Regions from separate parts of the Homo sapiens genome. Here all the other regions are linked to region 4. The links come from fine-mapping of genetic effects on gene expression. A gene starts in region 4. Each other region holds a variant in brackets. All regions are shown on one strand. Distances are from middle to middle.

Evidence for each region. PIP is the estimated chance that this variant, and not a neighbour inherited with it, causes the effect.
Region 1: its variant is fine-mapped to the expression of CD33 in whole blood (INTERVAL, PIP above 0.99).
Region 2: its variant is fine-mapped to the expression of CD33 in whole blood (TOPMed, PIP above 0.99). The same link has a PIP of 0.9 or more in subcutaneous fat.
Region 3: its variant is fine-mapped to the expression of CD33 in monocytes after LPS (Fairfax 2014, PIP 0.95).

What each region holds. Positions count from the first base shown.
Region 1 is chr19:51,304,765-51,312,868 of GRCh38, reverse strand. IGLON5 (IgLON family member 5) reads right to left here and starts at 1,225. Exons shown (of 8, transcript NM_001101372.3): 1 at 943-1,225. The coding sequence starts at 1,021. The variant C/T (reference allele first, on the strand shown) is at 4,453.
Region 2 is chr19:51,243,117-51,251,220 of GRCh38, reverse strand. It overlaps SIGLECL1 (SIGLEC family like 1), which reads right to left and starts at 141. Exons shown (of 6, transcript NM_001385465.1): 1 at 1-141. The region is part of intron 2 of LOC107985327 (a long non-coding RNA gene); the gene reads left to right. The variant G/A (reference allele first, on the strand shown) is at 4,979.
Region 3 is chr19:51,263,647-51,271,750 of GRCh38, reverse strand. It overlaps SIGLECL1 (SIGLEC family like 1), which reads right to left. Exons shown (of 6, transcript NM_001385465.1): 2 at 7,657-7,868; 3 at 6,102-6,383; 4 at 5,869-5,974; 5 at 4,222-4,378; 6 at 2,421-3,180. The coding sequence starts at 7,678. The coding sequence ends at 3,154. It overlaps LINC01872 (long intergenic non-protein coding RNA 1872), which reads right to left and starts at 485. Exons shown (of 3, transcript NR_136526.1): 1 at 179-485. It overlaps LOC107985327 (a long non-coding RNA gene), which reads left to right and starts at 584. Exons shown (of 4, transcript XR_007067309.1): 1 at 584-732; 2 at 1,507-1,588. The variant C/T (reference allele first, on the strand shown) is at 4,713.
Region 4 is chr19:51,221,905-51,230,008 of GRCh38, reverse strand. It overlaps CD33 (CD33 molecule), which reads right to left and starts at 4,929. Exons shown (of 7, transcript NM_001772.4): 1 at 4,854-4,929; 2 at 4,411-4,791; 3 at 3,928-4,206; 4 at 3,653-3,700. The coding sequence starts at 4,890. The region is part of intron 2 of LOC107985327 (a long non-coding RNA gene); the gene reads left to right.

The DNA of each region.
Region 1 (8,104 bases), 83 kb before region 4:
TCCTTGACCACCCCCTGCCTGCCAGGCCCTACTGGGGAGACTCAAGGTCCAGCTATCTAACCTCAGTGCAGAAACCTGCCCCTGGCCCTCTCCCCAACTGGGAGGGCCGGGCCGGGCCGGGGTTAACCCTTCAACCTGCTTTAACCCTTCCCTTCCGTCTTTCCTTCATCCTCCCATGCCCATCGCTCTTCCACTGTCCAGCCCCACGAACCTAGACATTCAATCAGAGCTTGGGAATCCAAGACCCCAGCCCAGCACCCCAACTTCCTGTATCTCCAGCTCCCTTCTCCCCCACATAACTGCAACCTCCCCAAGTACCAACACTTTCTCTCAACCTAGATGACCCTGCTGGGGGATTTCAGACCCTTCCCCTCTTTTCCTGACCCTGGGACTAGGTCTGTGGACACCCTTGTCCCCTCCTCTTACTGACCCTGGGAAGGCATCCATCCCCTGACCTCTGTCCCGAGATGACTACCCCAGCCCCCGGCAAGGACCTCTTCAGGGACCCTCTCCACGTACAGATGAAGACCCCTAACAGGGCATTATCCCCTGCCCCCCACCCCAACTCAGTTCGGAGATCCGACCCGGGGACCCCGAGTCCAGTGTCTGCCCCCTCCTCAACAGGAGCCGCAGACTCCTGCCCCCAGGCAGGGCTAGGTGTCTGCGACCCTCTTGCCTGCTCGGGGAAGCAGACCTCCGCCCCTAGACCCGGCTCCGGCCCGAGGACGCCGACCCCTGCCCCGGGGCGCGGACCCCCACGTCCGAGGTCCCCCTGCCCAGCCAGGGAATGCAGACCCCACCCCCGGGCCCAGACCCCGGCGTCCCGGGGCCTCCCCGCGCCGGCCCAGGGATGCAGCCCTCGACCCCCACCCCTGATCCCCCGATTACCCACCCAAGACCCTGGCGTCCCGGCCGAGCCCCCCGCCCCCGGCGCTGCGGTACCTCGGCTGATGACGGCCAAGCCGGCCAGGGCGGCGGCGGCGAGAAGCCGGAGCCGGGCCCCGGGCGCAGGGGGGGGCATCGCGGCAGAGGCGGCGCGGAGGGGGAGGGGAAAGGGGGGGCCGGTCCGGGGCGCGCGAGGCCTGGGGGGAGAGGGGGGAGGGGGAGGGGGACCCCGCCTGCGCTGCACCGGCCCGGGGGGCGGCGGGGGCGGGGGGAGGGGGCTGGGGGGGCGCGACGAGGCGGCTGGAGCTGCTGCAGACCCGGGGAGGGGGGCGGCGCTGACGGGCAGGGAGACCGGCCAATCAGGAGAGGTGGGGGGCCGGGGAGGCGGGGTCAAGGGGGGGTTGCTTGTTGGAGGGAGAGGCCTTTGTTACTGCGGCCCGGCCCCTACCCCTCCCGCCCCAGGCGTCCCCACGTCTTTCCACCACATCCGCAGAACACGGAGTCTGGGATACTTCCTAAAACCCAGCTCCCTCCTCCTTCAAGTCCCAATCTCATCCTCCCATGGACCTAGGAGACTAGCCCCAGTCCCTCCTCTCTCAGACCCAGGAGCCCAGGTCCCCAGCCCCTCCTCCCTCAGACCCTGGAGTCCAGGCCCCCAGCCCCTCCTCCCTCAGACCCAGGAGTCCAGGCCCCCAGCCCCTCCTCCCTCAGACCCAGGAGTCCAGGCCCCCAGCCCCTCCTCCCTCAGCCCAGGAGTCCAGGCCCCCAGCCCCTCCTCCCTCAGACCCAGGAGTCCAGGCCCAGCCCCTCCTCTCTCAGACCCTGGAGCCCAGGCCCCCAGCCCCTCCTCCCTCAGACCCAGGAGTCCAGGCCCCCAGCCCCTCCTCCCTCAGACCCTGGAGCCCAGGCCCCCAGCCCCTCCTCCCTCAGACCCAGGAGTCCAGGCCCCCAGCCCCTCCTCCCTCAGACCCAGGAGTCCAGGCCCCCAGCCCCTCCTCCCTCAGACCCTGGAGCCCAGGCCCCCAGCCCCTCCTCCCTCAGACCCAGGAGTCCAGGCCCCCAGCCCCTCCTCCCTCAGACCCAGGAGTCCAGGCCCCCAGCCCCTCCTCCCTCAGACCCTGGAGCCCAGGCCCCCAGCCCCTCGTCCCTCAGACCCAGGAGTCCAGGCCCCCAGCCCCTCCTCCCTCAGACCCAGGAGTCCAGGCCCCCAGCTCCTCCTCCCTCAGACCCTGGAGTCCAGGCCCCCAGCCCCTCCTCCCTCAGAGCCAGGAGTCCAGGTCCCCAGCCCCTCCTCCCTCAGGCCCAGGAGTCCAGGTCCCCAGTTCCTCCTCCCTCAGACCTAGGAGTCCAGGCCCCCAGCCCCTCCTCCCTCAGACCCAGGAGTCCAGGTCCCCAGTCCCTCCTCCCTCAGACCCTGGAGTCCAGGCCCCCAGCCCCTCCTCCCTCAGACCCTGGAGTCCAGGCCCCCAGCCCCTCCTCCCTCAGACCCAGGAGTCCAGGCCCCCAGCCCCTCCTCCCTCAGACCCAGGAGTCCAGGCCCCCAGCCCCCTCCTCCCTCAGACCCAGGAGGCCAGGCCCCCAGGCCCCTCTTCCTGTGGGCCACAGTTCAGCTTTTCCATCTATTTTCATGGATAACGAAAACACTGACTTTTGGAGTGAAATTTGCTTTTTTCCTCCACCCCAACCCTCATCCCCAGTATAATAAGGCAATGGGAAGGGATTGGGGGACTTATCTTGGGGGAGCAGGTGGGGAGGAAACCATAATCCAGGGTTTAGGTGCAAAACATCCTGGCTCCCTGTTCTTTCACTGACTTGGCTGTGTGACCTTGGACAAGCCATTTCTCTTCCCAGAACCTCAGCGTCTTCCCCTGCAAGGTGGAAAATTCCCTATTGCCCAAGGTTATTGAGAAGAATGAGAGATCTTGGAGCAGCTCCTGGCTCCAGCCAGCACCTCAAAAACCTGTAGTGAGTTTCTCCCTCCCCTTTCCACTTTGCATCTGTTTACTAGGTGTATTCCACCCTCCTGTTCCCGTCCCCTTGGCATACGCAGGAGCAAAATAATCTCTGAGTCTACGTTATTTCTGTAGCAGTTCAAGGCAGGAGCTTTTGAAGTTACCCAGTAGGGGCTGTTCTGCCTCAGAAACATATCCATCCTCAATTCCTTCCCCCTCCACTCACATCCAATTTGTCTGCAAGAACCGCTGGCTCTGTCTCCAAAACAAATCTCTGCTTTGTCCTTTTCTTACTCTCCCATCCTGGTCTGAGCTTTCACCACCTCTCCCTGTAGGACTCTGGCTGTAGCAGCCTATGCTCTACTCTCTTGGCCTCTACCTTTGCCTCCACCTTCAGAACAACCACCACTAAACACCTGGACCAGCTAGGGCCACTCCCTGCCTCAATCACTCAGCTCGCTGTGACCTTCTTTCCATTCCTTAAACAAACCGAACAATTCCAGCCCCAGGGTCTTTGTACTTGCCGTTCTTTCGCTGGAATGCTCTTCCTACCACACTGGCAGATGACTCTTTCTTATTTAAGGCTCATCTTCTCCCCTTTAAGAAGCCTTCATTGATCATAGTTTCCAAAGTAGCTGCTACTCCCAGCACAATAACTCTACGTCATACCTCTTCATAGCACTAACAATGTTCTTTTGCCTTTTCCTTTTCTTTTCTTTCTTTCTTTCTTTCTTTCTTTTTTTTTTGACAGAGTTTTGCTCTTCTTGCCCAGGCTAGAGTGCAATGGTATGATCTTGGCTCACCACAACCTCTAACTCCTGGGTTCAAGTGATTCTCCTGCCTCAGCCTCCTGAGCAGCTGGGATCACAGGCATGCACCATCACAGTCGGCTCGTTTTGTATTTTTAATAGAGATGGGGTTTCTCCATGCTAGTCAGGCTGGTCTTCAACTCCTGATCTCAGGCGATCTGCCCGCCTCGGCCTCTTAAAGTGCTGGGATTACAGGTGTGAGCCACTGCGCCCGGCCGATTTCCTTCTTTCACTGTTATTTTTAGTTGCTCTCCCCCTACTCCCACTTCCAGAATGTAAGCTTCACGGAGTTTTTTGTTTTTGTTTTGGTCTGCTTTTGTTCAAGGCTGGATTTCCAGAGCCCAACCTAGTGACTGACATGTAGTACGTACTCAAATAAATACGTACTGCATGAGTGAGTCGGATGGCTTAGCTCCGTTTGGAGAGATGGAGGGAAGTAAGATACAGAGGGAGGAAGAGACCTGCCTGCGTTCACAAAACTGGGTGATGCAAAAGTTAATGGTGTTCTGCAGGTGGCTTGCACTGGCTCAAAAGAGCTGATTATTAAATTTTCAGAAATTGTGCAAGCCAGGTGTTAAACCATTATTAGCTTGAAACTGGCCATGTTGGGAGGATTTACACCACAGCAATGGTGAACACTGAATCAGCTTGCCAGCCCACCACTCTACAAAATCCATTGTGATCCTGGTGAAAGGCCATTTATTGATCCTCTTTGAATTCCGGACCGTTCAGACTTAGGATGAGAACAGGAGCTCCCTCTTCCTGAAATGGCCCATCCCATGCCTGATAAAATATGAGTGCTTACT[C/T]GGTGTAGGGATCTTTCTAAGCACTTTGTACATATTATCTCCTTGAAGCATCATGACACCCTTCTGAGGCAGCACTTATCTTTATCCCTATTTCACAGGTGAGGACAAAGAGACATGGAGAATTTTTTACATCCCAAGAGCTATAAATGTGTGATACTGTGAAATATATATTTGGTCTTCATAACACCCCCGCTACGTCCACTGGCAAGCCCCAGGTAGCTTCAGTATGGGGGTTGGTCACAGGAAAGAACAAGGCATGATTAAAAGGTTGGGACTTTCAGCTCATCTCCCAGCCTCTGTGGAAGGGAGAGGGAGTGAAAGTTAAGTGGAGCACCAATGGGCAATGATTTAATCAATCATGCGTATGTAATGAATGTTCCATTAAAAAACCGCAAAAGACTGGGTTTAGGGGGCTTCCGGACAGTTGAACACACGGAGGTTCCTGGAAGGTGGCATGCCTGGAGAGGGCATGGCAACTCCATTCTCCTTCCCCTGCACCTCACCCTGTGCGTCTCTTCACCTGTATCCTTTGTAATATCCTTTATAATAAACTGGTAAGCATAAGTGTTTTTCTAAGTTCTTTGAGCTGCTCTAAAAAATTAATTGAAGAGAAAGGTGTTATGGAACCCCAATTTATAGCTGGTCAGTCAGAAGCACAGGTAAAGAACCTGGAGCCTACAATTGGCATTGGAAGTGGGGGACAGTCTTGTGGGACCAAGCCCTCAACTTGTGGGATCTGCTGTGAAGTCCAGGTAGATGTATGAGGATTGAATTGGAGTACACCCAATTCGTGTCCACTGCAGAACTGATTAATTGGTTGCTGGTGGGGAGAAATCCCTACACAATTCTTGGTGACACCAATCAAAAGAGAAGTGTTGATTGTTAAGTGAGAGAATAGAAAAAGCACTTTGGTTGTCTTCCCTATAGCCTCAGATTTGGTGTCAGAAGTGGGATGAGTAAAACAGAAATTGATGGAGTTAGAACAAAAGTCTTAATATAATACTATTTAAGGTTGGGTGGGCCAAAGGGAGTACTTGTTGGTTCCCTAACATTAAAGGGTTCCAAAAAAGTTTGCTGTATTTACCTTAGTTTGGAGAAATTTTAAAAGTCAGAAAGCAAAGATTAAAATAAGACATCTGATCTGAAATTTTCTGGGGCAATAGTCTGGCAGTTTAATCAAGATAAAGATTAACCAACAAGCAAGAGTTCTTTTGCTCAACGCCCTGATGGGGACCTAAAGCCTTATGTACACAAGTGGACAAAATGATCAGGGATGCAGAAGAGAAATTCATGGGACTCCTTGATATGGGAGGTCCACTGACTATGGTACCAACATCCATTGGTGAAGTCCTGACTTGGGATTAGATTGAGAGAATGTAAAAATTTAAGGGTTGTAGTATTGTGAAACCAAAAACCATTGATAAAGTTCTAATAGAGGCTACAGTTAGGAAAGTGAGGGTTGGTGGAATTAAGATAAACCTTTATAGGAGAGTTGGTATATTTGAACACATTTTCTCTGAAGTGATTTTACCTGATTATATTATGGGGATGGATGTTGTATCAGACTGGGAAATGTTTCCCATACCTAGCATTATGAAACAAAAGCCATGTAAATCTGCCTTTAATCAATATTAATTGGACATGCTAAATAGGAACCAGTCAGATCTCTGGAGCCCACAAAATGTAGAATAGAAGACAGAGTGATGCTATGGACAAATTCTCTGAGACAGAGCCCTGTATGGAACCCAGACTGGGGCCTATGGGAACAGCCTATAAGCACCTTCCAGTGACAACTACTGAGACTCTGGACTACAGAATTTCAATTTGAAGAGCATAATACTACTTTCTATGGGATATTAATTCAAGCTACCCCTATGACTGAGGACATAAAATGATCTTGAAGCCTGAAATACCAATAATCTCTTGGATTATGTTTAAAAACACTCTAATGGAGATTAAAATGCCCAGAAGAGTCCCCTAATAAATTAGAAATGATTTATACAGGATCATGCTACCTAGGGAATGCAAGGAGGAGATACTAATAAAAAAGGAGCCTCTTTCTCCCTCGGACTGACTCTGGAAGCGTATGGGGAGCAGCTGGATCCTACTGCCACTTGGACAGTGCCCTATAAACAGCTCTCAACTAGCCAACAAAGAGCTGCTTGGTGTGCAGATGACAGTGCCAAGATGAAAAGACCACGTTCTATTTAGAAGGATGCCATTCTGATCAAAGAAGATAAAAACAAATCCGTCCAGTGAGCTGAATTGCATGCTGAAGAATTGAACAGTGGTAAAAGCCCTTCCGTGTGGGTTTTTACTGACTCACAGGCAGTGGCCAATGGCTTGGCCATATAGTCAAGCAGGTGGATAATGGAAACCTAGCCTATTAAAGGGATGTCCATATGGGACACACACAGCCCTTTGGAAATTTGAGGGGTCCTTAAGGTAGGACATGTCAATGCCCACCAGAAGAGCTCTCTTCCAGGTCTGGAAGGTGATTGAAATCGACAAGCAGATATCCCTGTGTGCTCACTGGGTGGCCACCTGGGTGCATGAAATGAGAGGACATGAGGGCACTGCAGCAGTGCAGAGATGGGCTGAATCTAAATATGTTTCTATTGCACCCTCTCAGGCACATAATGCCAATAAGAACTGTTCTGTTTGCCAGCAGGAGAGACAGAAGCTGCAGATGGCTATGGGCCAGATTCCCTGGTGGGAAGGTCCCAAGCACAGCTGGCAAGTGAGGCTGATGCTGGTAGCCCTGGGGGGCTACAAATGGGTCTTGACAGGAATAGACGCTGACTCTGGGCTGGCCTTTGCTTACCCAGTGGAAGATGCAAATGCTCAGAGTGCTGTAAAAGAATCAGAACAGAATATATTACACACATTTGCACAGGCTGCCGTCATTTCTTCCGACCAAGGAACACACTGTCTAGCCCATAATGTCCAGCAATGGGCAGAGAGCTGTCCTTTGGGTAATAATTTGATCAAGAAGTGGAATGAGCAATTAAAACTTTGGTTGTCAAAAACAGGGGAGATAAAAGCATGAAGGATGTAGCCATAATTTTTTTTAATGTACCCATAAAAATAAAAATTTAAAAAAAAACAGGAAGATTTGGCTTACATGCCCTCCTGTGTGCTCACACTCAACCTGATGGGACTAGAGGAGCGTCACCACTAGACTTTCCTGTTTTCTGGTTGACCTGGGAAAGTGGGGGTAGGGAGAATGCTGGTGTGGCTATGCAATTCTTACCAAGTTGCTATAATGACTATATATTTTTTTCTTTCTTCCAGATATAACCTCATTTTTTTCTCCTACCTGATGCAGTGGTCCTAGTAAAACCAACCCAATTGTCCCATAGAAGTGGCATTTACTATTTTGTTTTTTTTGAGGCAGGGTCTGGCTCTGTCATCCAAGCTGGAGTGCAGTGGTGCAAACCTGGCTCATTTCAACCTCCATCTCCTGGGCTCAAGTGATCCTCCTACTTTAGCTTCCTGCATATCCTACAGATGCATGCCAGCATGCCTGACAAGTTTTAAACTTTTTTGTAGAGACAGGGTCACGCCATGTTGGCCAGGCTGATCTCAAACTCCTGGCCTCAAGCAATCCTCCTGCCTCAGCCTCCAGAAGTGCTGGGACTACAGGTGTGAG
Region 2 (8,104 bases), 21 kb before region 4:
ACCCAACAACTGCCAGGGACGCCAACAGGCCAGGCACAGCCTTATGCGACTAGGGATCCTCAGTCGGCTGCACAGAGATAGCGGCGTGAGGGGCGTGATAGCCGCTGCAAGACCTGCTAGCTCGCATCCTTAGGTGAGTGCATCCACCCGCAGCCAATCAGCGGCTGCATGGGCTTACTTTACACAGCCAATCAGAGGCTGCATGTGCTTATTTTACAACCAATGAGAGGCTGCATGGGCTTATGTTGCAGCCAATCAGAGGCTGCATGGGCTTATTTTATAGCCAATCAGAGGCTGCATGAGCTTTTTCTACAGCCAATCAATGAAGCAGAAGCATTGTGCCCACAGGCGTGTGCCCCTGGGAGCTGATGCACGGCTGCCAGAGTCAATCAGGAACTGCAACTGCAACTCCCTCCTCCAACCTTTGTGCCCAATTGGATCTTGAGGGCTTGAGCCAATCCGCAGCTGGGGGCGGTGCCAGGGTAGTTTGTGGGCCAATTTTCTTCCCAGCAAGGCCTTTCCAGCCCGTGCTGATGAAACCACACTCCTCTCCAACCCTGAGGACTCCGTTCCTCTTGTTTAACCCTGTTTATTTTTTCTCACACTTTATCCGTCACGCACTTTCTTACCCATTACACTTTCAAAATGACAGAGGCATTTGAGCCAGAGCAACTCCGTCTTGAATAGGAGCTGGGTAAAATGAGGCTGAGACCTGCTGGGCTGCATTCCCAGAGGGCTAAGGCATTCTAAGTTACAGGATGATATAGGCGGTCAGCACAAGATACAGGTCATAAAGACCTTGCTGATAAAACAGGTTGCAGTAAAGAAACCAGCCAAGGCTGGGCTCGGTGACTCACGCCTGTAATCCCAGCACTTTGGGAGGCTGAGGCGGGCGGATTACCTGAGGTCAGGAGTTTGAGACCAGCCTGCCAACATGGCGAAACCCTGTCTACTAAAAATACAAAAATTAGCTGGGCGTGGTGGCAGGCACCTGTAACCCCAGCTACTTGGGAGGTTGAGGCAGGAGAATCGCTTGAATCCGCGAGGTGGAAGTTGCAGTGAGCCGAGATTGCACCACTGCACTCCAGCCTGGGCAACAGAGTGAGACTCTGACTCAAAAGGAAAAAAAAAAAAAAGAAGCCAGCCAAATCCCACCAAAACCAAGATGACAATGAGAGTGACCTCTGGTAATCCTCACTGCTACACTCCTACCAGCACCATGACGGTTCACAAATGCCATGGCAACGTCAGGAAGTTACACTATATGGTCTAAAAAGGGGAGGCATGAATAATTCACCCTTTCTTTAGCATGTCATCAAGAAATAACCATAAAAATGGGCAACCAGCAGCCCTCGGGGCTGCTCTATGAAGTAATCATTCTTTTATTCTTTTACTTTCTTAATAAACTTGCTTCCACGTTACTCTATGGAATAGCCCTGAATTCTTTCTTGCAAGAGATACAAGAATCCTCTCTTGGGGTCTGGATCAGAACCCCTTTCCTGTAACAAAAACACTTTGTGCTAAATATCATTTGCTAATGGTATTTTTGTTTATGGTTTGACTGTGCCACTAGAATAGAAGCTCACTTTTTGGTTTTGTTTTATGGTACATGGGAGACCTCCACTCCCTATTACAACAGTCTCCACCTCCCTGTTGCAGCAGTTCCCCTTCCACTGCTGCAAAGATTCTTCTCCCTTTATTGGAATAATTGTTTTGGATAAAATCTTGCCTTATTTATGTGCAGATTTTTTTTTTTTAATGTGACAGACTGAAGGATGATGTTCACCCTCCAGGGCCTTACTCCATGGCCCTTACAGCTTGCAGAGCAGGCCCCAGATAGACTTCCCGAGAGGGGACCTGACTTTGTTCCCTTTACCCTAGCTGTAGCAGACTGACTGCTATTACCTAAACATCTGCCAGCCCCTCTTCTACCTCCTTGCTTTGTAATTGATATTATCAGTACCTAAACTGCTTTTCCTCGCTTCTCTGCTTGCTGGCTCTTGCTTTCCCTTCAAGGTGCAGTTAGAAAGGGGCTTCCTCTGAGAAGCCTTTTCTAACTTCTTTCCCATCCCTGAAAGCTCTTGCCCTTGGGTCCCCAGACCCTAGGCCATAATTATCCCCATAATTTATATCCTTTGCCATCTTTATAGGAACCTTATCATACTGTGTTTCAGTAAGTTACCTATTTCTGTCCCTTTCCCAAACATTACCCCATGAACTTGAGCTCTCCCAATTGTCAAAATAACTAACTGGGAAGCCATTAGGCTGAGATGGCTCCAAGGCCTTTGTTTCCAAGTAAGCAAATTCAAACCTAACTCAAAGTGAATGGTCATATCCTAGAAAAATGAAACTTAGGCTTAACCAATCGAAACTGCCTACTAACCTCTAAGTAGAGACTTTACCAATCAGAAACTGCAAGTTGACCTCTAATTACAAACTTTAAGGCTACCGTTCCCCTTTAACCAAATGAAACTATTTTCTTTGTTTTGATTCCAGGAATACCTTATAAAAGTTTTCCTTGTGTGCCCACTAGGTGGTTTGGCACTTCTGGATTCATGAATGTCAGCTCAAATAAATTCTTTAAAATTTTAATGTGTCTAAGTTTATATTTTCATATGAGCCAGGGACTGTATCTTCTTCCTTTTGATGTTCTTGGAGGAGCTGAAGCAGCTAGGTTACTTGGGGTATAAACATGGGGTTCCGCTGGCACATGCCAGGACAATTTAGGACACAGAAACACACGAGGATTTTAGGAGTGGAGGTTTAATGGGTAGAAGAGAAGAGAAAGAGAAACTGCTTCCTCTAAAGAGGAAGGGGTCTTGGAACGGAAAAAAAGACCATCTGGTGGTGAATGCTGCAAATTTTATAGTCCCATTTGAGGAGGTGGTGTCTGATTCACATAAGGCTCATAGATTGGTTTGATCGGGTATAATGTTTAAATAGCACACAAGGAAGGCTGGTAACCCCACCCTAATCTTCTTATGCAAATGGACTTTCCAGTTGATCAGTGCCACCTTGTCTGCTCCTTACAGCACGTGACAGAGAAGGGAAGATGGAGCGGCCATCTTGAAAATGTCCATTCCTTAGTTCCTGCCGTCATTCACTCATGCAAGCTCCCAGGTTGCAGGCTGCTCTTTGTTAGAAACTGATTTGGGGCTGCTTTTCATTAAAAAGAAAAGCCTTACCAAGGACTCCCATGCCCTTGCTCTGGGCCTAAGTAATTCCTTCTTAACTCCTGTATTGGTGTAGCATGTAGTAGGCATGCAGGAAAAGTTTGGAAAACAAAGAAATTAGAACCTCAGGATTTCTCAAGACCGTCTTCATAAATGTGATAACAAAGGAATTCTTAACAGGACCCGTTCAGGATTAAACAAGTTTTACTGGGGGTCTTGAGACCCTTGAGACACTAGGGGCTATCTCTCCCTCCGTCTGCCTCTCAGGGTGTACTTTTGCTTTGCGATAAACTTCTTCAAATGCACTAAATTGTTTTGAAATTGGGCAACGGCCGGACACGGTGGCTCACGCCTGTAATCCCAACACTTTGGGAGGCTGAGGCGGGTGGATCACCTGAGGTCAGGAGTTCGAGACCGCCTGATTAACAAGGTGAAACCCCGTCTCTACTAAAAATACAAAAATTAGCTGGACGTGGTGGCAGGCACCTGTAGTCCCAGCTACTTGGGAGGCTGAGACAGGAGAATTGCTTGAACCCAGGAGGTGGAGGTTGCAGTGAGCCAAGATCACACCAGTGCACTCCAGCCTGAGTGATGGATCCAGACTCTGTCTCAAAAAAAAAAAGAAATTGGGCAACATAGTGGTTTTCGTAGTGAACTTGAAGAACTAGAGAAAGTTCATTTTGTTCAAGTATCTATGTGAATACAGAGGAGGAAGGCTCTAGTTCAGTGTTTCTCAATTTGGTGCTTTTTTGCACCCTGATAGACACCTGACAATATCTGGAGTCCTTTTTTGGTTGTCAAAACTGGACTAGGGGAGCTACTGACATCTTGTGTGTACAACCTAGAGACGCTGCTCAACATCTGACCATGCACCCTTGTTCCTGGACCAAACCAAGGGTCAGGCTGCTTATTCTCTTAGCCCAATGACAAGATGCAGGTGAACTGGGAGAGAAGGGAGTTTATTTCTGTAACTGGGCACAGGGAGAAGATCTGGAAAATATTGCCAGACCAACTCAAAATTACAAAGTTTTCCAGAGCTCATATACCTTCTAAGCTATTTGTCTACATGTAAGAGTGCATTCATCTGGACGTAAGCGATTAACTTCTTCCAATCTGTAACTAAGATGTCAGTCCTGAAGATCTTCCTCTGTAGCCTCAGTAAATTTATTTAAACTAAATGGGTCCAGGTGCTGGGGTGATTACCCTTATCTTGTCTCCTGCTAAATCATGGAGGTTTGGGGAGTTCCTTCAGACCCCCAATAAACTTGTTTGTGGAGGCTTAGAGGAGTTTCTTCAGACCCCCCAATAAAACTTGTTTAATCCTAAACGGGTCCTGTTAAGAATTCCTTCATTATCTTGTTATGCTCAAGGCCCAGAAAAGGCCTGGGCAAAATTCTTGGTGGGCTTTTGTTACATTCCAGCCTTTGTATGAGGGCACTGGCTCTGTCAGCTTTTAATATTTAACTTAACCACTCAATCAGTGCTGAGACAGTTGTTATGGAGGCCTGCCTGTTCAGCGGTTAGGGAGACCTGACCTGCCACACCCTCCCCTAACCACCACCACCAAAGAATTATCCAGCCCCAAATGCCAGAATATGAATATCGTTGAGGTTGTGAGGCAGGATAAGTAAGGTTAGGAGGCCATACTCACTTGTATCCTTGCGCAAAGCCCCATGGATCCCTTTCGAAGCAGATTCTTTGGTTTTCACTCTCGTGAGTCAGCACCTAACTCTTGCAAGATAAACAGTCCTACAGGATACAAGCAGACCACCAGATGGTTGCAAGTTCCTGTTAATGTGGCCTGG[G/A]AAAGAGAACAAAAGCCACTTATTCATGGTGTAGTTTCCCCAGTCTCCAGCCAATCAACACCAAAAACCCAAGAAGCTGTGAGCTACAAATTCCTGCCTTGGGGGAGCTGGGAACTTCTCCAGGGCTCTGCGTGTGCAGCTATGTTCAAAGTTTAGCTTATAGTGACCTTTTCCTCATTTGAATAGTAGAAAATACACCCCTAGGTGGAGATTTTATATGCTAATGATACATGCAATGCGTGTTAGAGCACATAGATTCTGAGTGCATGCCTTTCATGCTGGACTCACCAATATTTTATGAATATGTATGTATAGTTCCCATGAAAGGAATTACCTTGAGATGCTAGAGGCTGTCTCTCCCTCCCTCTGCCTCTCAGGGTGTACTTTCGCTTTGTAATAAACTTCTTTGCCTACTCTTACTTTGGACTCGCTCTCAAATTCTTTTGTGCCGCAAAGTCAAGAACCTGAACTGGCCCACCAACAGCAGTTGATAAACTGCTCTAATCCAAGCTGTGGGAAAGTACAGGGGCTGGGAGAGGGGACAGGGTAGGGAATGCAGCTTGTCTGAGGAGGTGATGTTTGAACCAGCTCTCAAAGGATGAGTGTGTGCTGCAAAGAAGGAGGGCAGGGGACAATATTGCAAAGAGACAGAACCACATGAATGAAGCATGGAGAGGCACAGAGGGACATGCAATCTCTAGGATGTGGCTGAGATGTGTGAGGGGTGGTAGCTGAGGGTGAGATTGTAAAAAGTTATTTTTTGTTTTGTTTTGTTTTGTTTTTTGAGAAAGAGTCTTGCTCTGTCGCCCAGGCTGGAGTGCAGTGGTGCGATCTCAGCTCACTGCAACCCCTGCCTCCCGGGTTCAAGTGATTCTCCTGCCTCAGCCCCTCACGTAGCTGGGACTACAGGTGCATGCCACCACGCCTAGCTAATTTTTGTATTTTTAGTAAAGACGGAGTTTCACCATGTTGGCCAGACTGGTCTCAAACTGCTGACCTTATGATCTCCCTGCCTCAGCCTCCCAAAGTGCTGGGATTACAGGCGTGAGCCACCACACCAGGCCTTTTTTTTTTTTTTAGACAAGGTCTCACTTTGTTACCCAGGCTGGAGTGCAGTGGCGTGATCTAGCTCACTATAACCTTGAACGCCTGGCTCAGGGGATCCTCCCACCTCAGCCTCCCAAGTAGCTGGGACTATAAGTGCGTGCCACCACACCTGTCTAATTGTTCTTTGCTTTTGTAGAAACAGGGTCTCTCTATGTTGCTCAGGCTGGTGTTAACTCCTGGCCTCAAGCAATCCTCTTGCCTCAGCCTCCCAAAGTGCTGGGATTACAGGCATGAGCCACTGTTCCTGGCCTGGGAAAAGCTTGAATAACTCTCACTAGAGTCAGAACATCATCTTGAGGCAAAGAGGCAGGCATGGGAGGATATTTAGCAAGAAAGATACAGGGTTAGAGGTGAGTATTAGAAAGCTCCCATTGCTGATGGTTTTGGTGATGGGCTGGTTGGGGTGGGACTGGAGCCCAGAGGCTGGGGAGGAGGCTTTTGCCATGTTCTGGGGAAGAGGAGTCAAGATGGGACCTGGATCTGAGAGTAAGGGGAAGGGGACAGGCCAGGAACTTGGTGACTTACAGGAATGGGTGAAGAGGGAAAGGGAGAAGTGGAACAAAACTCTGGCCATGGAGACTTAAAATAGGCTTTATATGGCCGGGCACTGTGACTCATGCCTGTAGTCCTAGCACTTTGAGAGGCTGAGGTGGGCAGATCACCCGAGGTCAGGAGTTCAAGACCAGCCTGGCCAACATGGTGAAAGCCTGACAGTACTAAAAATACAAAAAATTAGCTGGGTGTGGTGGCAGGCGCCTGTAATCCCAGCTACTTGGGAGGCTGAAGCAGGAGAATTGCTTGAATCCAGGAGGCGGAGGTTGCAGTGAGCTGAGATCGTGCCATTGCATGCCAGCCTGGGCAACAAGAGCGAAACTCCATCTCAAAAAAAAAAAAATAGACTTTATACTTCACTTTTACTATCTTGCACGTCAGTTTTCCCTGTGACCACAGGGTCAGCCATGTAATCAGGGTGCAAGTGAAAAGCCTGGCGCCACAAGGATATAGCTGGAAACCTGCAGGTCATTCAGTGAATCGAATCATTACCTTGAAGAATTTGGCTAGTGGCTGAGTTCACTTTGACCAGCCCCCAAGAGCTGGGGGCTTGGCATGCACCAGCCACTCTGTCAAGCATTGATTCATTGAATCCTCAGGATGAACCAGTGAACTAAGTGGTGCTATTATCCCCATTTAACAGATAAGCAAATGGAAGTAGCAGGAGGTTCAGTGGTGAGGCAGGTGTTCAGATGCTGGAGATCTGACTTGAAAGCTTAAATTATTATTTTTTTTTATTGATGTAAAATCACGTTACATACAATGAACATGTTAAAGTGAACAACTCGGTGGCATTCAGTACATACACAACGTTGTGTAACCACAACCTCTGTTTGGTTCTAAACATTTTCATTGCCCCAAAAGGAAAGCATGTACTCACTAAGCAGTCACTGCCCTCCTCGAAGCCCCTGGCAACCGCCGACCTGCTTTCTGCCTCCAGAAATGTATTTCCTATTCTAGACATTTCATATCAATGGAATCATATGGTACGTGATCTTTAGTGTCTGGCTTCTTTCACTTGGTGTGATGCTTTCGAAGTTCATACACGTTGTAGCATGTATCTGTACTTCGGCCCATCTTTATGTCTGAATGATATGCATTGCAGGAATGTACCAGATTTTGTTTATTCCTTCATTAGTTGATGGACATTTGGGTTGCTTCCAATTTTTGGCTACTGTGAAGGAAGTGAAAATTTTAATTGCTGCCTTCTGCTGCCTTCGTTAAGACAATTTTAACAGATTCTAGATCCTGGGAGTATAGCTGTGGTGGAGAGATGGATGGGAGCCTGTGGGATCCCAGAGGAGGGAGTTCCAGATTCGTCCCAGGGTAGTGCGAAGTTGAAGGATGCTTCATGCTGGAGAAGACCTTGTACTTGGGCCTTGAGGTATTTCATACTGTGGCCAGTGGAGCTCACAGTCCCCAGAGGAGAGGGAGCCAGGAGAAGGGAGGAGGAGGAGGAAGAGGTAT
Region 3 (8,104 bases), 42 kb before region 4:
TGACAGAGCAAGACACTGTCTCAAATTAAATAGATGAATAAAATAATGAAATAAAAATAAAATTCTGATCTCTTTCCAGTCTCACTTCCTTCTCCAGGCCCTGGTGTGTGCGTGAGTTTTCTTCACAGGTGATCTCTTTTCCCTCCCCCTAAATTATCACTTCTTTTTCCATATTTACCTCCCAGTCTCAGGGTCCAAGGAGCTCCAGCCTGGTCCTTCCTCAGCACTATTTCCTTAAAAACCGAATGTCCTCCTGAATTTTTGCATCAAGCGGGTTTGTTTGACTTCCTATTACTGTTTTCAATGACTCCGGATGCGCCCGATGAACTGACTGACACGTGGAATAACCGTGTACACAAACACGGAGTGCCTCACGGGGAAGTGACTAAGGCAGAGGAAGGCTAACGGATTCGCTGAACTGGGAGTCCCCTGAGGCCTCGCCAACCTCCTTGCACGGGGATACCAATCCCTTGAAGCCCCGCCCCGCAAGCTCGCGCGGGTTTGTCCAGAGCCAATCAGGGCCTGACCCTTCTCGCGGGAGCTGCTGGGATGCGCAGCCGCATAAGAGAGCGCGCGGGTCTCCAGAGCCTGAGCTAGTCAGAAGCAACAGTTGCTACTGCGTCCCCCGGACATTGGGAGAATCGTTTTCCTTGGGCAGCTGGTTCCAGACCCCCACCAGTCCTCTAGACTCCAGGCCAATCAGTTGCTAAGGGACGTTCCTCTCTCAACCTGGTATGTGCGGGAAGTCAAGGCATTAACTAAGGCACAAAATGACTAGTGCTGGACCCCAGGGCTGGTCAGAAGGCACCCTGTGTACTCATTGTTTCCTGTCCTGCACGCGAGGCCCCTATCACCGAGAAAACAAGACACACGATGAAGCCCAGCCTCTCTATTCCCATTCCCAAACCCATCTCTGACCTATCTCCAACCCGATCCCTATCCTCTCTCCTATTCCTTTTCTACATTTTTTTCTCTTCTTTCCCAACACTGGCACTCTCCCTCTCCCCAGCCTTGTCTGCCTCTCCCTCCCAAACAGAGGATGTATCTTTAGTAGAAGCAAACACCAAACCTGTTACATAGAGGCTTCTATCCTCAACTCAAAACCTCTGCTGCCCAGGATTCTCACACAGCTCCACTGGATGTGATTCTCAAACAATCTGCACTTTCCAGAATTACAAAGCATAAGAGGAAATAACCCTCCATAAGTGAGGACAAAACCTAAACTTCCCACTAGAGCCCTGGAAGGCCTGCAAGTTCTGGCCCTTCAGGAGCTCATCCCTCAGTCAATTCCAGTCACAGCGGCCTGCTCTGGGCTCCTGAACTCACCAAACTGTTCTCATGTCAGAGCTTAGGATCTACTGCTCCCTCTGTCTAGCCAGCTCCTAATAATCCTATAGGTCTCAAGGCAAGTGTCACTTTCTCTGAGAGGCCTTCTCTGACTCTGTAATCCAACCTAGCTTCCTTTCCTGTGCTTTCTCATAGTATTCTGTCCTGTTTTCTTTCTAGCACTTATCAACATTTTAAGCTATAAATTCGTCTGCATTTCTTCATCGTCTGTCTATGTAGACCATGACTCCACGGAGGCAGGGTGAGTGTCTTACTTCTTCCCCTCATTATCTGGCACATGGTGGCACATCTGATATTTCTGTGAAATGTGAACTGCCTGTGAGAGGTGCTTATACATGTGGGGGCTAACGTAAACGTCCACCCTGAGTATAAGATGACCATCTAGCTGGTGCTACAGGATCACTGTATTTACCCACAAATATTGCCCCAGGGAAGAGATGACCCTCTTTCCACCTACTGAAAACTACTAGCATCTGGCCAGGCACGGTGGCTCACTCCTGTAATCCCAGTACTTTGGGCGGCCGGGGTAGGTGGATCACCTGAGGTCAGGAGTTTGAGACCAGCCTGGCCAACATGGTGAAACCCTGTCTCTACTAAAACTATAAAAAATTAGCTGGGTGTGATGGTGTGTGCCTGTAATCCCAGCTACTCGGGAGGCTGAGGCAGGAGAATCACTTGAACCCGGGAGGCAGAGGTTGCAGTGAGCCGAGATTGCACCATTGTACTCCAGCTTGGGCAACAAGAGCAAAACTCCATCTCAAAAAAAAAAAAAATCTACTAGCATCTGGCTAGAAAGGAGGTTGTCATCCATTCTGAGAGGAACAATACATAGTTGTGGTTCATTCTAATGCCAGAATCCCTTTCCCATTCCTTGCATGCCTGCCTTTCAATCTGGCCAAGAACTATTGCGATAACCTCCTAACTAGCATCTTTACCTCCAGCCTTACCCATTCTAAATATATCATATGTGGGGTCAGGGTACGGAAATGATTTTTCTGTCTATATCTGGTCACTCTACTTGCTTGCTTCAAACCTTAAAACAGCTTATAATTAATTAAATCATTTGACAAACATTCTTGAGATCTTATTGTATTTTAGGCATCATTCTGGGTGCTGGTGATAAAAGTAGAAAACAAGGCAGACAAAGTCCCTGTTCTCTTGGAACTTACATTCTAAGGGAGTCAGGATAAGGTCCTACAAGATAAAGCTCCAAAGCTCCAATGAATCTTGGCATTCAGGGCCCATCGTCATGTTTTTTCTCACCTGCATCTCTGAACAGTACTTTTCACCCATTCTCCACCCAGATATGGGTCATGTGATGTTCAAAGGATGGGGAATGAAAGATCTTGTCCAAAGATAGACAGCCACCAAGCACTGAAGTTGGGATTCTATCCAGATATGAAGGCTTGAAAGCCTGGCGCTCTTGTAGGTGTATCTCAGGCACTGACACACAGTAGGCGCTCAAAAGTAACTTGCTGATGGACTTGATTCATATTGTCACATGTATTTTTCCTTCTTTTGACACCTTCCCAGGGTGGCACAGATTTCTTCTCATTTAGCCAAACAACAAATTACAAAGTGTGTCTTCAGAGGTTCTAAGACTAGGTCTAAGAGTAACCACCTATTCAATGGAGAATGAGTGTTAAGGGATGTGTAGGAATTGAGAGGGTTTTGTGAGCTGAGGAGAGTCCAGGGGGCTCCAGGTTTATTACAGCCTCCAGGGTTTCTGTGAGCGCTATAAATTTTGCAGATCTTTGTAATTCCAGGGATAATGGCGACTCCAGGTATGAGGCATGTTCCACAGGCTTAGCTGGCTCGTTTATCTTGCTTTTCCTGAAAGCGAGGTGCAAAATAGAACAAAGAAAAAAGAATGTTGGAACAGGTCTAGAGGTGAGGTATCCAAATCTTAAAAAGACACCCCCTTGTGCACAGAATTAAGGCAACATGGAGTGAGCACTGGCTTAGCCCTTCCTCACAACCCCATGGTTAAAGCCTGCAACTCGGTCTTCTCCATCTGGTCCTCTCTGTGCATCTTCAGTACCCATAACACTGACTGTTCCTTAGACTCCTCAGGGAATCTTGCCTGACTTCCTCAGGTAGGTTTGGTCCCTCCCTCTTCTGCACCACCGTAACTCCTGGCTCAGCATCCCCTACTGTGAAGGTGCCTTCTCGACCAGTCTAGTTGCTCTCTGAGGACAAGGCCTAGGTTTGGCCCATTTCTGAGACCCCAGCATTGTCGAGCACAAAGATTAGGAGATATTGCAGGAAATATTGGTGGAATTTAACAGATGGCTTATCTACAAAAGGACACCAACTGTTCATGCAGGGTGTTAGGAGGGCAGCAGGATAATTCTGATTCTGGAGAATCATAAACGGTAAATAACAGTGAGGCATAGCAACCTCGGACACTGTATCTTCCAAGCCCTGCTGAAGATGTGGGGTACAGGGTGAATGAAGGAGTAACCTGGGCTTGGCCTAATCTCTAACCACTTCAGGCTGACTTGGCCTGTGGCATCTACACCAAGCTGACTGCTGCCGGCCATACACTCAGAGGCCAAATCCTTGGTTTCCACTCTGATGCTACAACTGCTATTAGGATTTTCCCCAACTGCCTTTTCAGTGGGGATTCAATGTAATGGTGTGTGCGTGTAAATTGATTTTAATTGTTCTTTAAATTGTTTCTCTTAACTTTCATCCTTCTCCTCTCTGGGCCTTAGCTTCCTATTTATAAAATGACCTGAAAGCACACTCTAGCATTAGGTATCCTGCAAGACTGAGGATGATAACACCTTCAAAACACTGTGTGCTCCTTTCCCTGTGGGTCTTATTATCAGTATTCCGATAGACTAGATTCCAGACACAATAGGTACATACCAATATCCGGCTCTCAGAAAATGTGGCGACTACGGGTTTTCCTGGTTCCTCAGGCTTCAGAGACATCTCAAGTTCTTGGCTTGCTCTGACTTTAGAGCTCTTTTTTGCTCTGATCGCTGCAGCTTTCTTCGCCTGCTTCTTTCTGATATGTTTCACTCTAAGGAAATAAGCCTTGGATTGGTTCTGGCTCTCCATCTCCCTGAATCCCCAAATGGGCTCTATCTTGACCAGAACTTCTGATTTAGAGCCTCAACAACAGTACCAGCTTGCTGTATGACCTAGGGCAAGCCACACATCCTCTCTGGGAATTAGTTTCACACTCTGAATAAGGGGGATACCCTGCTTATTAGGCTGTGGGGCTCAGATGAGGTCAGCTAAGAAAGGGCCTTGCAACTGGCAGAGAGATTGTTACTGGTCTTCAAGTCCTGTTGATTATACTTTGAAAATAGCTCCTCAGTTTGCCCTGACACCTCACTCCTCATCTTTGTCTC[C/T]CCATAGCCAGCCATGCCCAAGTCCCACCTCTCTGGCTGCCCCTCATCACTTGCCCCAGGTCAGGCCTTCTATTTCCTGCTTAGTCCCCTGCACCAGCTTCCTGCCTGGCCTCTGACCTTCTGGCTCTCACTCTCTCTAATCTGTGTCCCACCCCAAGCTCAAGCTTTCCTTCACAGCTTAGCACTCTTCCATGGCTCCGAAATGAGGATTCAGTCCAAGCTGTCTGGACAGGCTCCCCTGCCCGTCTCTCTGGCCTGACTTCCTGCAACTCACCCCTTCCCACTCCATGCTTCTAGCTAATACATGCAGCTAAGTTTTAACACCCTGTGAACCAACACCAAGGATGTCTTTCAACCTCATTTTTAGCCATTACCTGGTACTCTCAATGCACCTGACATTATACAAAGACACTGGAAATGCCTCAAACATGCCTCTGGGCGTCTGCATACAAAGGTTAGATATCCCTTATCTGAAATGCCTGGGGCCAGAAGTGTTTCAGATTTCAATTTTTTTTTTTTTTTTTAGATTTTGGAATATTTGTTTATACATAATGACATATCTTGGGGATAGGAGCCAAGTATAAAAACAAAATTCATTTATGTTTCATATATACCTTATACACATGGCCTGAAGGTAATTTTATATAATATTTAAAATTATTTTGTGCATGAAATAAAGTTTGTGTGCATTGAACTATCACATGAGGTCAGGTGTGGAATTTTCTACTTGTGGCATTATGTCGGTGCCTCGAGAACTTTTGGACTTTGGAGCATTTCGGATTTTGGATTTTTGGATTAGATACTCAACCTGTACTATTAATACTTTCCACCAAGCTAACGAGTACTGAACCCTTGCAGGCCCACCACAGACAGCACCCCGGGGACTCGCTGCTGCCTTTTCCAGGGCTGCCAAGTCCCTTCTTGGTCTTCTCCTTTATAAAATGTGTTCAAAGTGTCTGTTTTATGACACAGTTTTACGGTTCTGTATAGTCCTCATGGCCCTGGATTGTGGTGACCATGTTTGGTACATCTTTCCCTCTTTAGACCCTAAGCTCCTTGAGGGGAGGGGTCCTGTCTTTGCTCTCTCTGTGCCAGGGCTGCAGCCAGGGCCTGCCCGGTAGTAGGCTTGCGGGTGAATATTAACCCTAGTACTCACATGAGAGGGAGGAGGCAGAGGAAGAGCAGCGCAATTACAATTCCCGCATAGATAGCACCCTGGATCAGCCCTTTCACGAAGGCCTGGGCAGCCAAAGAACTCTTTCCTGGAAGCAGAGAGCATGTGAGAAGTTTGGCATCGGAGCCAAAACTCTGCTCCATTCTCTAGCCCCAGTGACTGTCCCCATCCCGCTTATTGTCCTCACCCAGTCACCGAGCCCCCTCCACCCTCACTTGACATCAGTAGGATGCTCAAAGCATGGGTTCCGTTTTGGTTCTTCCCCTCACAGAGAAGTCTCATGCCCATTTCTGGCTCTTCAGTTAGGCTGATGGTGCTGTTAGCCCAGGGGCCAAGCATGGTGGAAGTCACTTGGAGGCTGCCATCCATGCCATCCACACCCACGGGGACTCCTCCCATCCACCACTGCACAGAGGGTGTGGGAATCCCATGGAAGGAACAGCTGCACTGCAGTGTCTTCTCCAAGGAGCAAGAGGAGTTGAGCAGCTTAGCAGGTACTGTGGGGAGGAAGGGTCAGGAGTCAGCAAGGCATCCTGGCTTCCCTCTTCCAGTTTCTCCAGCATGCAGCCTTCTCTTTACTTGCTATTCACAAGGAGCTTCAGAAGGACTTTCTGGAAGCCCACAGGATTCAGGCCTCCCAGACCAGTTCCCCTCTATCTTCTGTCCTCATCTGGCCTGAACCTGATCGCTAGACCTTCTTGAGGGGTGGCAAGTAAATTTCCTGAGGCTCTACATTGTCTGTGATCCCTCACCTACCCTGCAAGGCTAGAAGTCCAAGCCAGACCTCCTACTCTGCTTCTCTTCTTCCCACCTGCAATGTTCCTCTTAGGCTCTATGACCAATTCTCCCTCCATCACTTCCTGTCTGGGTGCTGCTGGGCAAGTCACTCCCCTTATCATTGCTGTTTCCTAGCCTGGAAAATCGGGATATTTGCTGAACCTATCTCATATTATCATCGTTATAAGAATGAATGCCCCAAGATTTGCAGTGCACCCAGCTCAGTGCGTAGTGAAGTATTACCCATTCAATAAACAGAACACCTTTCTTAATTTCCTTCTTCCCGGTCTCAAGTGGTCTTTGGTGGAACATTCACTGGAAGCCAAATGTACTATGGCATCTTCTGTGTAAGAATGCTGGAAATTGCCTCGCTCTATTTAGAACAGGTAGGACATGGTGGCCATTTGATGAATATCATGGATTAGGAGGGAACAGTCACATTCATCAAGGTCTCTAATAATGAGGAATCTGTCTTCAGTGTTGACACACACTTTTTCGTTGAAGTTTTTTGAGGTTACTGGAAGAAAGGGGTAATTTTCCCCTAACCAGTAGCTCCTGATCTCGGTCTCTTCACCTGAGTCACTTGCGGGGCGCTGTTGAGGAATCTGCGGGGGACTCTCATGTACGGACCCCTCTATGGCTGTCCTCTGAATTGTCTTTTCCACCTGGCAAAGTGTGCCCACAGAAACACTGAAAAACTTAACTTCAGGGCTTCCAGTAATGTCTGAAACAGCTCCTAGTGCTCTCATGCCTTCATAGCACCTACACTCTCCATCCCTCTCCCTTGCCCAATTTGCTATTTGCTTCAGACACACCAGCCCTGTCAAAATCTGACACACAGAAGCTGTCTAATTCATGTTGATTATTTGGTACTTATGCCCATATGTCCTCTTTCTCCATGCCTCCATAGCCCATCCTCTGCCCTGCCAACACCCAGGCCCTGGAGTCTTGGCTTCCAAACACACCTCCAGTGCTGCTTCTCACCTTACTTACCCAGCTGTAGCAGTGGAAGCATCACTTCCAGCAGCAACAGTTCTCAGGAACAGCAGAAGCTCTTTACTACACTGGCTCTGACATCAGAACCATATGGTTCAGAAGGAGTGAGGTGATGCGTAACTGAAAGAGGATGTGGGGATGGGGAGAGCAGAAGTATCTTTAGCCAAGTCAGGGGCTTCTGTCTCTGGTCATCGTGAAGGCCTGTTCACCTGGAGAAGCAGGAATTATATGGGATGAGAGGCTCATGAGCACGTACGGACAGGGAGGCAACTAAGATTGTCTGTGAAGCCTCAGTGTCATGTCTGCTTTATTCTTTGTTTTATTTTTGTTTTTTGAGATGGAATCTTACTCTGTCGCCCAGGCTGGAGTGCAGTGGCTCGATCTCGGCTCACTGCAATCTCCATCTCCCATGTTCAAGCGACTCTTCTGCCTTAGCCTCCCGAGT
Region 4 (8,104 bases):
GAGAAATAAATGCCTACATCAAACAATTAGACAAATTTCAAGTAAACCATTTAACTGTGCATTTCAAGAAACTAGAAAGCAAGAACAAACCAAATCCAAAATCAGCACAATGAAAGAAATCATAAAGATCAGAGCAGAAATAAATGAAATTAAAAAAAAATCAATGAACAAGTTCGCTTTTTGGAAAAATAAATAAAATTGACAATCATTAGCTAAACTAAGAAAGAGACAGAAGACATAAAAATTAATAAAATCATAAATAAAAAAGAAGATGTCACAATGGTTACCACAGAAATACACAGGATCTTAGACACTACTATGAACAATATGCCAACAAATTTGAAAGTCTAGAAGAAATGGATAAGTTCCTGGACACATATAATCTACCGAGATTGAATCAAGAAGGTATAGAAAACTTCAGCAGACAAACAACAAGTAATGAGATTGAATGAATAATAAAAGGCCCCCCAACAAAGAAAATTCCAGGGCTGGATGGCTTCAGTGCTGAACTTTACTGAACCTTTAAAGAAAAAAAAATTATGCCAACTCTTCTCAAACTATTCCAAAAAATTGAAGTGGAGGCAACTCTTCCTAACTCATTCTACAAGGCCAGCATAACCATGACACCAAAATCAGAAAGGAGACAATAAAAAAAGAAAACTAGAGGCCAATATCCCTGATGAACATAGATGCAAAAATATTCAACAAAATAGTAGCAAATCAAATCCAACAATACATCAAAAAGATAACATACCATGATAAAGTGGGATTAATCCCAGAAAGGCAAGAATGATTCAACATATGCAAATCAATAAATGTTATACATATGTCAACAGAATGAAGGACATAAACCGTATGATCACCTAAATAGTTGCAGAATAAAAAGCATGTGTTAAAATTCAATATTGTTTCATGATAGAAACTCTCAATAAATTAGGTATAGAAGGAAAGTACCTCAACACAAAAAAGGCCATATATGACAAACCCATGGCTAACATCATACTGAATGGAGAAAAGCTGAAATCTTTTCCTCTAGGAACTGGATGTCCACTGTTATGACTCTTATTTTACATAGTACTGAAAGTCCTAGCCAGAGCAATTAGGCAAGAGAAAGAAATAAAAACCATCCAAACTGGAAAGGCGGAAGTCAAATTGTCTCTGCAAATAACATACAAAAACCTAAAGACTTGGCCAGGCGTGGTGGCTCATGCCTGTAATTCCAGCACTTTAGGAGGCCAAAGTGGGCAGATTGCTTGAGGCCAGGAGATCAAGACCAGCTTGGCCAACATGGTGAAATTCCATCTCAAAAACAAAACAAAACAAAACAAAACAAAACAAAAACCTAAAGACTCTAACAATAAAACTCTCAGAACTGATAAATGAATTTAGTAAATTTGCAGGATGCAAAATCAATATACAAAAATCAGTAGCATTTCTACACACAATGAATTAGCTGAAAATAAATCAGGAAGGCAATCACATTTACAATAGCTATAAGAGAATGAAGTATACCTAGGAATAAATTTAACCAAGGAGGTGACAAGCCTTAATAAGAAAAACTACAAAACACTGAGGAAATAAACTGAAGAGGATACAAACAAATGGAAAGACATTCCTTACTCATCAGATGAATTAATATTGCTAAAATGATTATACTACCCAAAGAAATCTACAGATTCAAACCTGGCTCTATCAAAATATCAATGTAATTCTTCACAGAATTAGAGGAAACAATCTTAAAATTCATATGGAACTAAAAATAGCCTGAATGGTCAAAGCAATCCCAAGCAAAAAAGAACAAAGCTGGAGGTATCACACTACAAGATTTCAAAATTTCAAAACTAGAAAATTTCAAAATTTCAAAAATTTAAAGATTTCAAAACTACAAAGCTGTAGTAACCAAAACAGCATGATATTGGCATAAAAGCAGATACATACACCAATAATACATAATAGAGAACACCGAAATTAATCCACGATCTACAGCCAACTGAATTTTGACAAATGCATGAAGAACACTCATTGAGGAAAGAGCAGTTTCTTTAATAAATGATGCTGGGAAAACTGGTGCCATATGCAGAAGAATGACATTAGACTCACACCTCTCGTCCTATACAAAAATCAATTCAAAATGGATCAAAGACCTGAATATAAGACACAAAATTTAAAAAATACTAGAAAAAAACATAGGGGAAATGCTTTAGGACATTGGTCTGGAAAAATATTTTATGAGTAAGACCTCACTAGCACAAGCAACAAAAGCAAAAGTAAATAAATGAGATGATATCAAGCTAAAAAGCTTCTATGCAGAAAGGAAACAACCAACAGAGTGAAAAGGCAACCTACAGAATAGGAGAAAATATTTGTCAGCTATTCATCTGACAAGTGATTCATATCCAGAACATACGAGGAACTCATACATCTCAATGGCAAAGAAACCCAATCTCATTTAAAAATGGGCAAATTATCTGAGTAGACATTTCTCAAGAAAAGATATACAGATGGCCAACAAGTGTATATGAAAAATGCTCAACGTCACCAATCACCAGGGAAATGCAAATCAAAACCACAATGAGGTAACATCACCCCAGTTGGGAGGACTATGATAAAAAAAAGATGAAAATTAACAAATGATGGTGAGGATGTAGAGAAGAGGGAACTCTTATATACTTTTGACCAGAATGTAAACTAGTATAACCACTATGGAGAAGAGTATGGAAGTTTCTCAAAAAACTACAAATAGAACTACCATATGATCCAGCAACCCCACTACTGGGCATTTATAGAAAGGAAAGGAAATCAGTATATTGAAGAAACGTCTGCACCTCAATGTTTATTGCAGCATTATCCACAATAGGAAGATATGAAATAAACCTAAGTGTCCAACAACAGATGAATAAATAAAGGAAATGTGGCGTATATACACAATGGATTATCATTCAGCCATAAAAAATAATGAAATCTTGTTATTCACTATAACATAGATTGAACTAGAGGACATTATGTTAAATGAAATAAGCTAGGAACAGAAAGTTGAATACCACATGTTCTCACTCATAAGTGGAAGCTACAAGAAGTTGATTTCATAGAAGTAAAAAGTAGAACAGAGAATAATAAGGGCTGGGAAGGTTAGGGGAACAATGATAAGGAGAGAGATTTGTTAAAGGATACTAGATTACACCTGGAAAGGAAGAATAAGTTCTGGTGTTCTATACCACTGTAGGATGACTATGCTTAACAATAATAGATAGCTTCAAATAGCTAGAAAGGGGATATTGAATGTTCCCAACAACAATGAAATAATAAATGTTCAAGATGATGGATATGCTATTACCCTGATCTGATTACTATACATTATTAGTATGGAAACATCACTATGCCATCCATAAATATGTACTATTATTACATATCAATTAAAAATAAAATACCCCAAGACATTCAGAGACAGGAGGGAGACAAAGAGCATTATTTGGATGGGCAAGGGGGAAGTTGCTAGTCATCCCCAAATATCCTTTTCCAAGGTGCCTGATGTCTACCCGTGTCTAACTGCAGGCCTTGCCTCTGAACATTTGACTCTGAAAGTCCAGATCTGACCAAACCTGACACAGACTCAATGTCAGTAACAGCCCCAGGCGGGGAGGCTCCTTCCTACCTGAGCCATCTCCTGGAAAGATACCAGTTGTTGGGTTCTGTGGAACATCTAGGAGAGGAAGAGAGGATTTCCTTCAGTTGGGGGTAGAGATGAGATAAGGGTAGGCATTTCCCCTTACTCCTGCCAGAAACCACAGAAATGCAGAAGGGACAGGGCTCATGTCCTTCTGGCTCCCGAACTCAGCCAGGCCTCCAGGACACTAAATGTCCCCAGCACCAGCCCATCCTGTCTCCCCTACACCCTCAGGGACCCCAGCATCCTGGCCCAGCACTTACAGGTGACGTTGAGCTGGATGGTTCTCTCCGTAGTCACACCAGCTCCAGCGAACTTCACCTGACAGGTCAGGTTGGTGCCGTGGTCCTGGGGCCGTGGGGTGATTATGAGCACCGAGGAGTGAGTAGTCCTGGGGCCCAGGGAGGTGGGGGCAGCTGACAACCAGGAGAAGATCGGGGGTGTTCCCTGCTCACAGGCCCAGGACACAGAGCAGGTCAGGTTTTTGGAGTGGCCGGGTTCTAGAGTGCCAGGGATGAGGATTTTGGGCCTGTGGGTCAAGTCTAGTGAGGAGAAAGAGGGGATGCAGAATCAGGAGGGAGGGTCCAGGTGAGGGCCTGAGAGAAGATCAACCTCTGGTCAAGCTCCCCCGCTAAGCACGACAGGCTTTACCCCTAAACCCCTCCCAGTACCAGGGTCCCATCCCAGCCCTGCCCTGCAGTACCCATGAACTTCCCTTGCGGCCACTTCTGAAGCCTGTGCCTCACCTGTCACATGCACAGAGAGCTGGGGAGATTTGTAACTGTATTTGGTACTTCCTCTCTCCATCCGAAAGAAGTATGAACCATTATCCCTCCTCCTGGCGTCTACGATGCTCAGGGAGCAGTTGTTCCTACTGGGATCCCCAAGGAGGCGGAATCTGCCCTGAGTCTCCTCCTGTACTTCTTGATCTAGCTTGTTTGTGGCCACTGGAGAGTCCCTGGATATAATGGCTCCTTCCCGGAACCAGTAACCATGAACTGGGGAGTTCTTGTCGTAGTAGGGTATGGGATGGAAGAAAGTGCAGGGCACGAGGACGCACAAACCCTCCTGTACCGTCACTGACTCCTGCACTTGCAGCCAGAAATTTGGATCCATAGCCAGGGCCCCTGTGGGGAAACGAGGGTCAGCTCGGCCCAGCCCGACAACCCCTCTCCCCACAGCCACTCACCTGCCCACAGCAGGGGCAGCAGTAGCAGCAGCGGCATGTCTGAGGAAGCAGCTTCCAGGGCTTCCTGTGTGAGCAGAAAAGAGGAAGGGAGTGGAGGGGAAGGACTACAGGGCCGGACAGGAAGCTGGGGAGGAGCAGGAGACCTCAGCCCTGCATGGAAGAGGAACCTCAGACCCACACATGCTCAGAGCTTGTCCCCTCCACACAGATTGACCCTCATGGGCCAGAGATGCCAGAGACCCGCCCAGAGATGGGAGGAGATGGAGCAGAATCTGAGTCTTGCCTTCCAGGAGCACCAGAGCCTGGATCAGTACCTTCAGGGCCATCTGAGACATGCGAACCCCATGTCTAAAGTCCTTCCACTCTGAGGTGCTTTTCTGTGCACAACTGTTTACACCAGGGCTGATCACTGCTGGCCTGGCCCGAGTCGCAGCCTCACCTAGATCCATGGGGTGTTTAGTCCAGCAGGATATAGGATTCTATAGGGTCCGTGTGAGTGTCTGGGGCAGAGAAACAAAGAAGAGTCCTAGGTAAAGTGAAGGTGGCAGCCATTCATTTATTCATTCATTCACTAAAGATATAGTGAGTGACAGAGCAGGAGCACCGTCATCTCGGAGAAACACTGCCTCTTTAAGTTCCAATTTCCTTTCTAGCCTCATGCATTTCAAGGAAATCACTTCTCTGCTAACTACAAGCAACCAGAAAGAGCAGACAGTGAAACACAGATAAGACAGCTCGGGCACAGAGGGAGGTAGGGGGAGAGTCTCTTGAGTTACTGCCAAACTTCACCCTCATACAATGGCCCTAGTAAAACAGTGGGCCTTAATAAGCAAATTCCTTTCCCTTCAGGTGCACTAAGATAGGGAAGCTAAAAGCAGACTCAGTGGGTATGCCTGTAGCTGCAGAAAGATGTATGGGTACAGACACACACCTCTCTCTCCCAGATAAGCACAACAAAGAGACTCAGAAGCAGTCCAAGTCTCTGATAAACTCTCCCACCCTAAATCCTTAAAAACTCTTAGTCTGTAAGAGAGTGTGCCTCTGACTTAACTCGGCCAGAAACTCCTCTCAGGTTTGTTTTCTCTAAAATCTGTCTTGACTGGTGAGCCACCATTCGTGTTTCTTTCCTCTTTCTTTAATTCTTACAGTGAGCCTTTGTGTATAGGTGGGGCTTGAGAAGAGATGCCACTGACCTGATTCCTGCCCTTAAGATACTCCCCATCCATAGCCTCATGTCCTCACCACACACACACATGCTGTCTGGCTTTAGAGCTGTGAAAAGTTGGGAATTTGCCATGTATCATGGTAGCATATTGGAAATTTTAAAAGAAATATGACTATAGAATTTTCCCCTGGCACCTAGTACACTGATTTGCACAGTGTCAATGACATCTCCAAAACAAGAACCATGCAGCATCTTCCTGTGAAACAAAAGGGAGAACACATGTTCTATGAACCAGTGCAGAAAAAACTTCTTTTCCATTCATGCTGCCATTTGGTTCAGTGTGGGCAGAAGCAAGTTTTTTTAGAGGCTCATCATATGGATCAACATTTTCTTTCATGTAAAAATCTGCTTCTCACAGTTAAATATGGCCCAAAGACATAATATTTCCAGACAACATGAGTGGAGTGTACAGAGAAAATTAAACTTTAGGTCCAGCTACATGGTTTTCCATATCACTCTGTGTAGTATGCATCCAGCAAACCGTTGATCCCTGGGACATATTAGTACTTGCCACCATACCTTTGTCAAATCTCTACACACAATAGTATCTAGATAACTCTTCATTCATCCTTACTAATAGAGAGGTAGCTGCATCCTCATTTGATATACAACAAATTAAGTCTCCAGTAAATAATATCTGTTGTAAGTTATTTAAATATTTAGCATGTGGCACGTAATAGAAAATTCAATACATTTAGTGCTTTTTTTTTTAAGACAGGGTCTTGCTTTGTTGCCCAGGCTGGAGTGCACCGGCCTGACCACAGTTCACTGCAGCCTTGACCTCCCAGACTCAAGTGACTCTCCCACGTCATCCTCTCTAGTAGCTGGGATCACAGGCTCATACTACCAGGCCGGAGTAACTTTTTGTTTTTATGTTTAGGAGAGATGGGGTCTTGCTATGTTCCCCCAGGCTGATCTTGAACTCCTGGGTTCAAGCAATCCTCCCACCTCGACCTCCAAAGTGCTTTGACTATGGGCATGAGGCACTGTGCCCAGCCACATTTAGTTTTAACAATAAAGTCATACTATGTTCATGGACCAGAAGATCAAATATGAATATGTGAGTCTTACTGTGTTTCTTTAATGAATTTAATTAGGTATAATTTACATGAAATAAAGCACACCTACTTGAAGTTCACATTTGCATGAGATTTGACGAGTATGTACAGCCTGTATACTCACCACACTGCAGATATACAGCATTTCTAGTATGCCAAGGGCTTTTCTTCCCACCTTCTATGCTGGGCAACCACTGATATGTCCTCTTTCATTGTGAGTTAGTCTATTTGAAAATCTCCTAGAGATGTGTTAATTTGTGTCTGTATCCTATGACCCAGCATAATATTTTTTGAAACTGAACCACGTTGTTTGTGTCTGTATTTCAAAATGTGATATTGTTAAGTAGTATTCCATTTATGTGTATACTATAATGTTTTATTTCTCACCTATTGATAGACAAGGATTTTCCAGTTTTCTCCCTACAGGTATTCAGGTACAAGTCTTTTTACATACATGGTTTTATACTAATTGGTATACACAGGAAGATAAATAGTCAGACTAATGACTACTTGTAAGTTTAACCTTAGTAGGAATTGCCAAACTGTTGTCCAAAATGGTTTTGACTTTTTACCACTCCTCCTAGCCATGTGCCAGAATTCCAGTAGCTCCACACCCTTGTCGACGTATGATACTGTCCTGCTTTATATTTGAACAATTCTAGTGAGAGCATAGTGGCATCCAGTGTTTTAAATTTTTTAATTTATTTAAAGTTAGATACAGTTGAATTAACTCTTTATCATATGCAATTTTGATATGGTTTGAGAGTTGTATATAATTATATACCCACAACCACTGTGAAGACACTGAAGAGTGTCATTAACCAAACGTTCCTTCCTCCTGTCTCTGGGTAGTCAACCCTCCCTCCACACTTAGTCCATGAAAAAATGCTGATATGTTTTCCATCCCTACTGTATTGCCTTTTCACAGAATGTCGTATAAATGGAATCATACAAAATGTTGCCTCCAA